Homo sapiens: one gene and its partner. The protein of the gene in region 1 purifies or fractionates together with the protein of each later gene. This does not show direct contact. Each region holds a gene or a part of one and is shown in the gene's direction. Other genes may lie near its edges.

Region 1 (4,425 bases):
CATCTGTCTGGATTACCTGTTGGAAAACAAATCAATCTTGTGCAACCCAGAAGACACCCACAGACTTCCTCACAAATACCCTCTGAGGCTGCCTTTTCCGCGCAAGTCTGTTTTTTGTTTCTTCAAAGGGAGCCCGTTGGAATTCCCCTCCCAGAGCACCTGGTTCCACACAGGGCCGACCCTCACCCCCTTAGTTCTGGTTATCTCCAGAGATTTCCCCCAACACACACATTCCCTGGTCTAGGGCCCTCAGGCTTCGAGGGTGACCCCAAACACCCCGCATCACCATCCAAAAGCCCCATGATCCCTGAGGGGCAGGCTCAGCCTATGCGGGCCTCGCTGAAGCCCAGTGCGGTGTCTATGCCCAACCCAGGGGCCGCCGCCTCCAAAAAGCCTTCCTAGCCTTACTGACATTTATCCTCTCCTTCCTGGTCACCCAGTGGCATCGTTGTGTGTCTTCCTGGTTACAGTCAGCATCCACTTCCTGCACTCCTCAGACAGCCGGCCAGTGCACCCTCACCCCACCCTTTCCTGACCTCCCGCTAGGCTGGGCCTTCTCTGCAAGGCTAGATTCATATTTTAGCGGCACCAAGCAGTCAGGTGCCTGCTGACGCATGCCTTCATGCAATTCACGACAGACAGCTAAAAGCCACAGAGCACAGCGCGGAATCTAAGGCCTTCCATTGGTGTGCAGGTGGATTCCGCGGTGCTAAACTTTCTTTTGTGGGTGTGGGGGCCGTGGAGGGGGTTGTGCTCTGGCAGCGTTGGCGCCCTAAATGACCTATAGGTAACCTCTAATGGCTTCCGCAGGGGGTGCAGTGCGGAGGACAAGAGCTTGGGGCTCTCTGGCTGAGTGATCTGGGGGCCATTCAACCGGTTTTTTCCTGGAGAAATGGGAATCTTAAGGCCTCTCTGGAAAGGGTGTGAGGGGGTCGAGGGGGAGCGGGCCCCGGGCCTTCAGCGCTTCAGCAGGTGGCTTCCCTTTGCGAGCCCGGGGTCCCTCTTCTGGGAAGCATGGGCTGGGACAAGGCAGGCGCCGGTTTTCTGCATCCCAAATGTCCTGGGGCATGTGTCCCTTCCTTGCTGACCGTGGGTCCGGGCCAGAGCGCAAGGTCCAAAGCCGGCGGCTTGGCTCCACCGCCAGGGGCAAATACCAGGGCGGGATGCGTGCTGCGGGGCGCCCCGGGGGCTCCCCCTTGGGACTTCTAGGGTCCAGGGGTCCCCGCGGGCGCGCCCCAAGCCTTCTCCCTCAGCTCCGGGGGCCCGGGCGCGCGCCCATCCCCCAGCCCCGCGTCCCTGCGCGAGGGCCGGGCTGGGGGTGGGGTCGCCGCGAGCTCGGCCCCCAGAGTTCCCGCGCTCAGGCCCAGGAAGCGGCGGCCGCCGACGGCCCTCGCCCCGCCCCCGCGCTCATCACCTGCTGGCCTGGCGCGCGCGCGGGCGGGAGCGGAGGGCAACGGGGCGGCGCGGGCGGCCGGGCGCAGGGTCGCGGGAGGTGACGCGCGGCGAGGATGGCGGCGCGGGGCCGGGGGCTGCTGCTGCTGACGCTGTCGGTGCTGTTGGCGGCGGGCCCCTCCGCCGCTGCGGCCAAGCTCAACATCCCCAAAGTGCTGCTGCCCTTCACGCGGGCCACGCGCGTTAACTTCACGCTGGAGGCCTCGGAGGGCTGCTACCGCTGGTGAGGCGCGCGGCCGGGCCGGGCGGGCGCCGTGGGCCGGGCTGGGCCTTCGCGCTGAGAGGCTGGGCGGGCGCCGGGAGGCCGGCAGAGCCGGCAGGTGCGCGGCGCGCTCTCGCTGGGCGCTAGGCTGCAGCACTCGGAGCGGCGGGTGCGCGTGGGTCGCCACCACTGCTCATGTCATGGCGCCGTCCGGGCCTCCGCGCCGCTGAGGCGCGAGCAGAGCGGGCGCAGCCTGGCGGCCGTGACCCGCGTGTTCTGGGTTGTGCGGGAGGAGGGGTGGCCTGGGGAGCGGCGTCTGGGACCGCAGGGCCCAAGCCGGCCGGGCCCGAGCCGGCCTGACCCGGGAGGGGGCGCCGGGGCAGCTGGGCCGCACTTCCCTTGAGTCTGGGACCCCAGCTCGGGTTTGTCTGTGACCGCCCTCGCCCTGGCGTGGGAAGTGAGTCTGTGAAACGAAGCGCAGCGCCTAGCGTCGCGGGGAGGAACGGAGACCCTGGAGGAAAGGAGTTTTGGAGGGAAGCCCAGGGGCCGCTTTACAGAGGCGAAGTGAGACGAGGCAGGCCGGCGCTTCCCCTCAGGCTGCCTCGGCGCGGGTCCTGATGCTCAGGGCATTTCCATCACCCTCCCTCTCGGGTTGGGAGTTCTCCAAGGGGTCGGATGCGGAGTGTGACCCTGTGGAACCACAGGGACCCATGAAACCAGAGACCGACACTGACAGGGCGGTGCAGTCCAGCCCTTCCATTTTGCAGACCAGGGGAAATGGAGCTCCTGCCCCTGGCAAGGCTGCGTGGGCACGACTGAGCGCCCTTAGCTTCCCAGCCCAGCCGTCCTAGGGGTGAAAAGATGGGCTTCCGCCCTTCCCACCCCCAGGATGCTCAGTAGTTGCTCCCTTTATTTCTGTTTCAAGACTGGGTCAAGGTTGAGGCAGAACGGGGTGTGACCACGTGACAGCCATGTGTGTAAGCCTGGACATGTGTGTGTCAAGCCTGTTTGAGTATTAGTCTGTGCGTGTATGTAAGTGTGATGCCCGAAGCTCAGACCAGCCAGCTTTCTCTGTTGCTTGCACTATTTGCCCTATTTCTTTCTTTCTTTTTTTTTTTTTTTTTTTTTTTTTGAGACGGAGTTTTGCTTTGTCGTCCATGCTGACGTGCAGTGGTGCGATTTCGGCTCACTGCAACCTCCACCTCCCGGGTTCAAGCGATTCTCCCGCCTCGTAGCTGGGATTACAGGTGCAGGCCACCTGGCTAATTTTGTTTGTTTGTTTGTTTGTTTTTAGAGTGCACTCCAGCCCTTGTTGCCCAGGCTGGAGTGCAATGGCGCGATCTCTGTCCACTGCAACTTCCGCCTCCCCGGTTCAAGCGATTCTCCTGCCTCAGCCTCCCGAGTAGCTGGGATTACAGGCGCCCGCCACAACACCCAGCTAGTTTTTTGCATTTTAGTAGAGACGGGGTTTCACTATGTTGGCCAGGCTGGTCTCAAACTCTGGATTCACTGTGTTGGCCAGGCTGGTCTTGAACTCCTCAAGACCAAGGAGAACTCCTCAAGCGATCCACCTGCCTCAGCTTCCCAAAATGCTGAGATTACAGGCGTGAGCCACCATGCCTGGCTTGTCTGGCCAATTTTTGTATTTTTAGTAAAGATGGGGTTTCACTATGTTGGTCAGGCTGGTCTCGAACTCCTGACCTCAAGTGATCCCGCCGCCTCTGCCTCCCAAAGTGCTGGGATTACAGGCGTGAGCCACTGCACCCGGCCTGCCCTATTTCTTTTTTGAAGGTCTCCTTCCTGAAATCAAGACGTACTAGGTCAGCCCATTGCATTTTGGTTTTAGTGCTTTATGCACCTGGAGGCTCCTATTTCTGGCCTGATGCCAGAGGCTGAACTTGGGCATTAGGTTTTCTGTATCCCAGTCTAAGGCCTAGTCTTGTGTGGGAAAATCAGCTGTTAGTCAATACTGTGGCGGGGATACATGCTCATTCTCTTGTTGAAGCTGTCTGTCCTCTCAGTATGTGGGCAAGAAAGAGGAAACTGGTTATTAAAAACAGCTGGCTTCAAGTGAATCCCTTTGGATATATTTGTGTGTTACTTTCTCTGAGATTCTATAGCTGTACTTTTTTCTTTTTCTAAACTAACAACACTTTTTTCCCCCCCAACATCATTTTCTTTTCTGAGAGGAGCTGAAGGGTGTTGGTGGATTTTAATTTACTTGGTAGGAAAAAGGGAAAAAACATTCTTAATCTCTGATGCATCAGAGAAGTGCTAAGTACCTTATAACGTGTTTGGCGTTGATCTGTAGTTTGTATTGCAGATGTGTGACTGCAGATGTGTGACTGCTATTCAAAGTGTCTTCTCAGAGGTGTTTGGAAATTGTGATTCCCCCTTAACTTGACAGGAAGACATTCTGTCAATCAAGCATTGAGAATATTTTCTTTATTTTTAGTATTGCTGTTCCTAGTGTAGTCGTCTATTGCTGCAGTTTTGAAGAATCTGCTCTGGAGATTTTAAGAGCTGGCCTATAGACATATATCCACAGTCCTCTAAACCTGGGAGGAACATTACCTCTTCATCCAGAAAGTTCATTGTTAAGTCTCTCAGACGAAAAAGAAAATGAGAATTCTGCCAGACCCTGTGGGAACATTTGCACATCCATTGAATTTGCAGCTGAGCTCTAAGTTTACAGAAATCACTGTGTGTGCCTGAGCCAACAGCTTCATGTTTACTTTTCCTATTTTTTTTATTTTATAACATCAAAATTG
Region 2 (3,807 bases), on another chromosome or scaffold:
AAGTAGAGAGAAAGGGTACTTGAAAGCAGGGGAGTCTCAGTACCCAGGCGGCTCCCAGGAAGTGGCCCAGAGGCCAGCTTCCTGCTCGCACACACATAGTCATTGTTCGTATTCCAGAATATCTTGGGTATTTTGTGTGCATTTCCCCCATGTGAACTTTAGAATTGGCTTGTCAAGTTCTTTTTTTTTTTTTTTTTTTTTTTTTGAGACGGAGTCTCGCTCTGTCACCCAAGCTAGAGTGCAGTGGCGTGATCTCGGCTCACTGCAAGCTCTGCCTCCTGGGTTCATGCCATTCTCCTGCCTCAGCCTCTCGAGTAGCTGGGACTACAGGCGCCTGCCACCACGCCCAGCTAATTTTATTTTATTATCTTTTTTTTTTTTTTTGTATTTTTAGTAGAGATGGAGTTTCACCACGTTAGCCAGGATGGTCTTGATCTCCTGACCTCATGATCCACCCGCCTCAGCCTCCCAAAGTGCTGGGATTACAGGCGTGAGCCACCGTGCCCGGCCAGCTTCTCAAGTTCTATAAAAAATGTTGTTGGGCTTTTGATTGGGAATGTGTTGGATTTATAGATTCACTTAAGGAGACCTGACATCTTTACAATATTAAATTTCCTAATCCAAATAAAGGGTATGTCCATTTCTTTAAGGCTTCTTCTATGTCCTTAAGTAAAGTTTTATAGTTTTCTTTATATAGGTCTTACACATTTCATGTTCGATTTATTCTTCTTGTAAGGTTTTTGTTGTTATTGTGAATAAGGCTTTTCCCCCCAATTACATTCTCTAATTGGTGATTGGTGGTGTAAATAAAAGGTAAGAGTTTTTAAATCATCTGACCGGGTGCAGTGGCTCACACCTGTAATCCCAGCATGTTGGGAGCCCAAGGCGGGTGGATCACCTGAGGTCAGGAGTTCAAGACCAGCCTGGGCAACGTGGTGAATGAAACCCTGTCTCTACTAAAAATACAAAAAATTAACTGGCCATGGTGGCGGGCACCTGTAATCCCAGCTGATACCATGGTGGGTTATGGTAGCCTCAGAATGAATTGGAGAGCTTCCCGCCTTTTTCTGTGCTCTGAAATAGCTTATATAATGTAGGAATTATGTGCTTCTTAAAGGCTAGTAGAAAAATTCTGTAAAACTATGTAGACCAGATGCCTTAGTGAAAATATTTTCCTTCCTTAGTTTAATTTTTTATCAGAATAATATGCATACATACTTTAAGAAATCAAATAGTGCTTCAAAACTTATCAGGAAAAACAGCAACTCCCTGTCCACTCTTCCCCATTCCTGATTCTTATTCCCCAGAGACAGCTACTTTAAATTAACTGTTTCTTCTGGCATTTAATTTTTTTTTTAACAGGTTGAGTCAGAGTCTCACTCTGTTACCCAGGCTGGAGTGCAGTGGCGCGATCTCTGTTCACTGCAACCTCTGCCTCCCAGGTTCAAGTGATTATCTTGCCTCAGTCTCCCGAGTAGCTGGGATTACAGGCATGCACTACTATATATGCCTAAAATATATAATTTTTATATTTTTAGTAGAGACAGGGTTTCACCATGTTGGCCAGGCTAGTCTCAAACTCCTGACCTCAAGGGATCCACCCGCCTCAGCCTCCCAAAGTGCTGGGGTTACAGGCATGAGCCATCACACCAGACCTTTTTTTTTTTTGAGACAGAATCTCACTCTGCCACCCAGGCTGGAGTGCAATGGCACGATCTGGGCTCACTGCAACCTCTGCCTCCCAGGTTCAAGCGATTCTCATGCCTCAGCCACCCAAGTAGCTAGGATTACAGGTGTGTGCCATCACACCCAGCTAATTTTTGTATATTTAGTAGAGATGGGGTTTCACCATGTTGGCCAGGCTGGTCTCAAACTCCCAACCTCAGGTGATCTGCCCACCTTGGTCTCCCAAAGTGCTGGGATTACAGGTGTGAGCCACTGTGCCCAGCCTTCTGACACGTAATTTATTATTTCTAAACATTGCAAATACTGCTCTTTCTTGAGTTTGTATAATTTTAGATGTAATTTTGCTCTCTTCTTCCCAACTCACAGGTATATACTTTGTTTTTTGTTTTTGTTTTTTTGAGACAGAGTTTCGCTCTTGTCACCCAGCCTGGAGTGCAATAGTGCCGTCTTGGCTCACAGCAGCCTCCGCCTCCTGGGTTGAAGCGATTCTCCTGCCTCCACCTCCCGAGTAGCTGGGATTACAGGCATGCACCACCGCGCCCAGCTAATTTTGTATTTTTAGTAGAGACGGGACTTCTCCATATTGGTCAGGCTGGTCTCAAACTCCTAACCTCATGTGATCCACCCTCCTCGGCCTCCCAAAGTGCTGGGATGACAGGCGTGAACCCCCTTGCCCGGCCTATACTTTGTTTTTCCCTCATTCCCTCATGATAACTGTTATATAACCAATAGAGTATTAAATTGATTGAACCAACATTCAATGCATACATTCTTATGTCTGTGTGAGTCTTGTTCACATGAACCGTGAAGGATGCTTTGAATTACATTTCCTTTCTTGTACTGCTCTCGTTTCCCCTGGGGTTAATAAATCACCTCCATTTTTGTTTGCTCTGTATGTCTCTCACTAATTCATACCCAGACCTCTCTCCTTAAAAACAAGTTAGCTCAAAGAGCTATTTGTAATTCTGTTCCATCACAATCTAAAGTAACCAAAAAAGATTTAAACTTCTGATCTCCACATGCATGCCTGTTAGGTAAAAATAGGAACTGGCCCTTTAAAGTTTAAAGCCAAGCACACACTTTTCTTTCTTGCCAATAGACATTCTTTGAGGAATGTTTTCCCACAAGAGATGCCTTTCATCTATTGAAAACCTTTTGAGACACACGACCTCCCACTGTCCACCCCTACCTCTCCACTCCTGCAATTAATAATCTCCCAGAGTGTTGTAGGAAATTCTTAATAGCTTCACTATCCACATTCACAGGCTTATTGTTTGTTTTTATTTTGTGCTGATTCAACTGGAATAACCTGTGTCAGAAAACAAGGACGTGCTCGAAGACTAATAGATTTATATAAAAAAGAGCGTAGGCCAGGTATGGTGACCCCATTCACACCTGTAATCCCAACACTTTGGGAGGCTTAGGCAAGAGGATCGCTGGAGCCCAGGAGTTTGAGACCAGCCTGGGCAACATAGTGAGACTGTGTCTCCACAAAAACATAAAAAGTTAGCTGGGCATGGTGTCACATGCCTGTAGCCATAGCTATTTGGGAGGCTGAGGTGGGAAAATTGCTTGAGCCCAGGATGTCGAGGCTGTCGTGAGCTATGATGGTACCACTGTCCTCCAGCCTGGGCAACAGAGCAAGACCCTGGATCAAAAACAACAAAAAAGAACATAGGAACCAGTCTGAAGAGGTTGTCACTGGCCAATATTAGCATAATTTGACCATGAAAAAGTATAATGGTGATAATAGTTTATGATAATAAATTGTTTAAGTCCATGGTGGTACTCTAAATATCCGAGTTTACTTTCTTAATTGACTTTTGGCCGGGCATGGTGGCTCATGCCTGTAATCCCAGCCCTTTGGGAAGCCAAGGCAGGTGGATCACCTGAGCTCAGGAGTTTGAGACCAGCCTGGCCAACATGGCAAAACCCCATCTCTACTAAAAATGCAAAAATTAGCTGGGCGTGGTGTCAGGTGCCTGTAATCCCAGGTACTTGGGAGGCTGAGGCAGAAGAATTGCTTGAACCCCAGAGGCGAAGGTTGCAGTGAACCAGGATCGTGCCACTGCACTCCAGCCTGGGAAACAGAGTGAGACTCTGTCTCAAAACAAACAAAAA

What was found.
Region 2: the proteins of NUP210 (region 1) and SMYD4 purify together in Homo sapiens (affinity purification with mass spectrometry; one large-scale study listed by BioGRID and IntAct). This does not show direct contact.

The regions. Positions count from the first base shown.
Region 1 is NC_000003.12:13,417,310-13,421,734, reverse strand, and holds the start of NUP210 (nuclear pore membrane glycoprotein 210 precursor), read left to right. Parts: upstream 1-1,412; 5' UTR 1,413-1,508; coding exon 1,509-1,675; intron 1,676-4,425. UniProt on the Homo sapiens protein: Nucleoporin essential for nuclear pore assembly and fusion, nuclear pore spacing, as well as structural integrity.
Region 2 is NC_000017.11:1,819,792-1,823,598, reverse strand, and holds part of SMYD4 (protein-lysine N-methyltransferase SMYD4), read left to right. Parts: intron 1-3,807. UniProt on the Homo sapiens protein: Protein-lysine N-methyltransferase. Monomethylates PRMT5, modulating its transcriptional activity. May also act as a histone methyltransferase. Plays a critical role in cardiac development.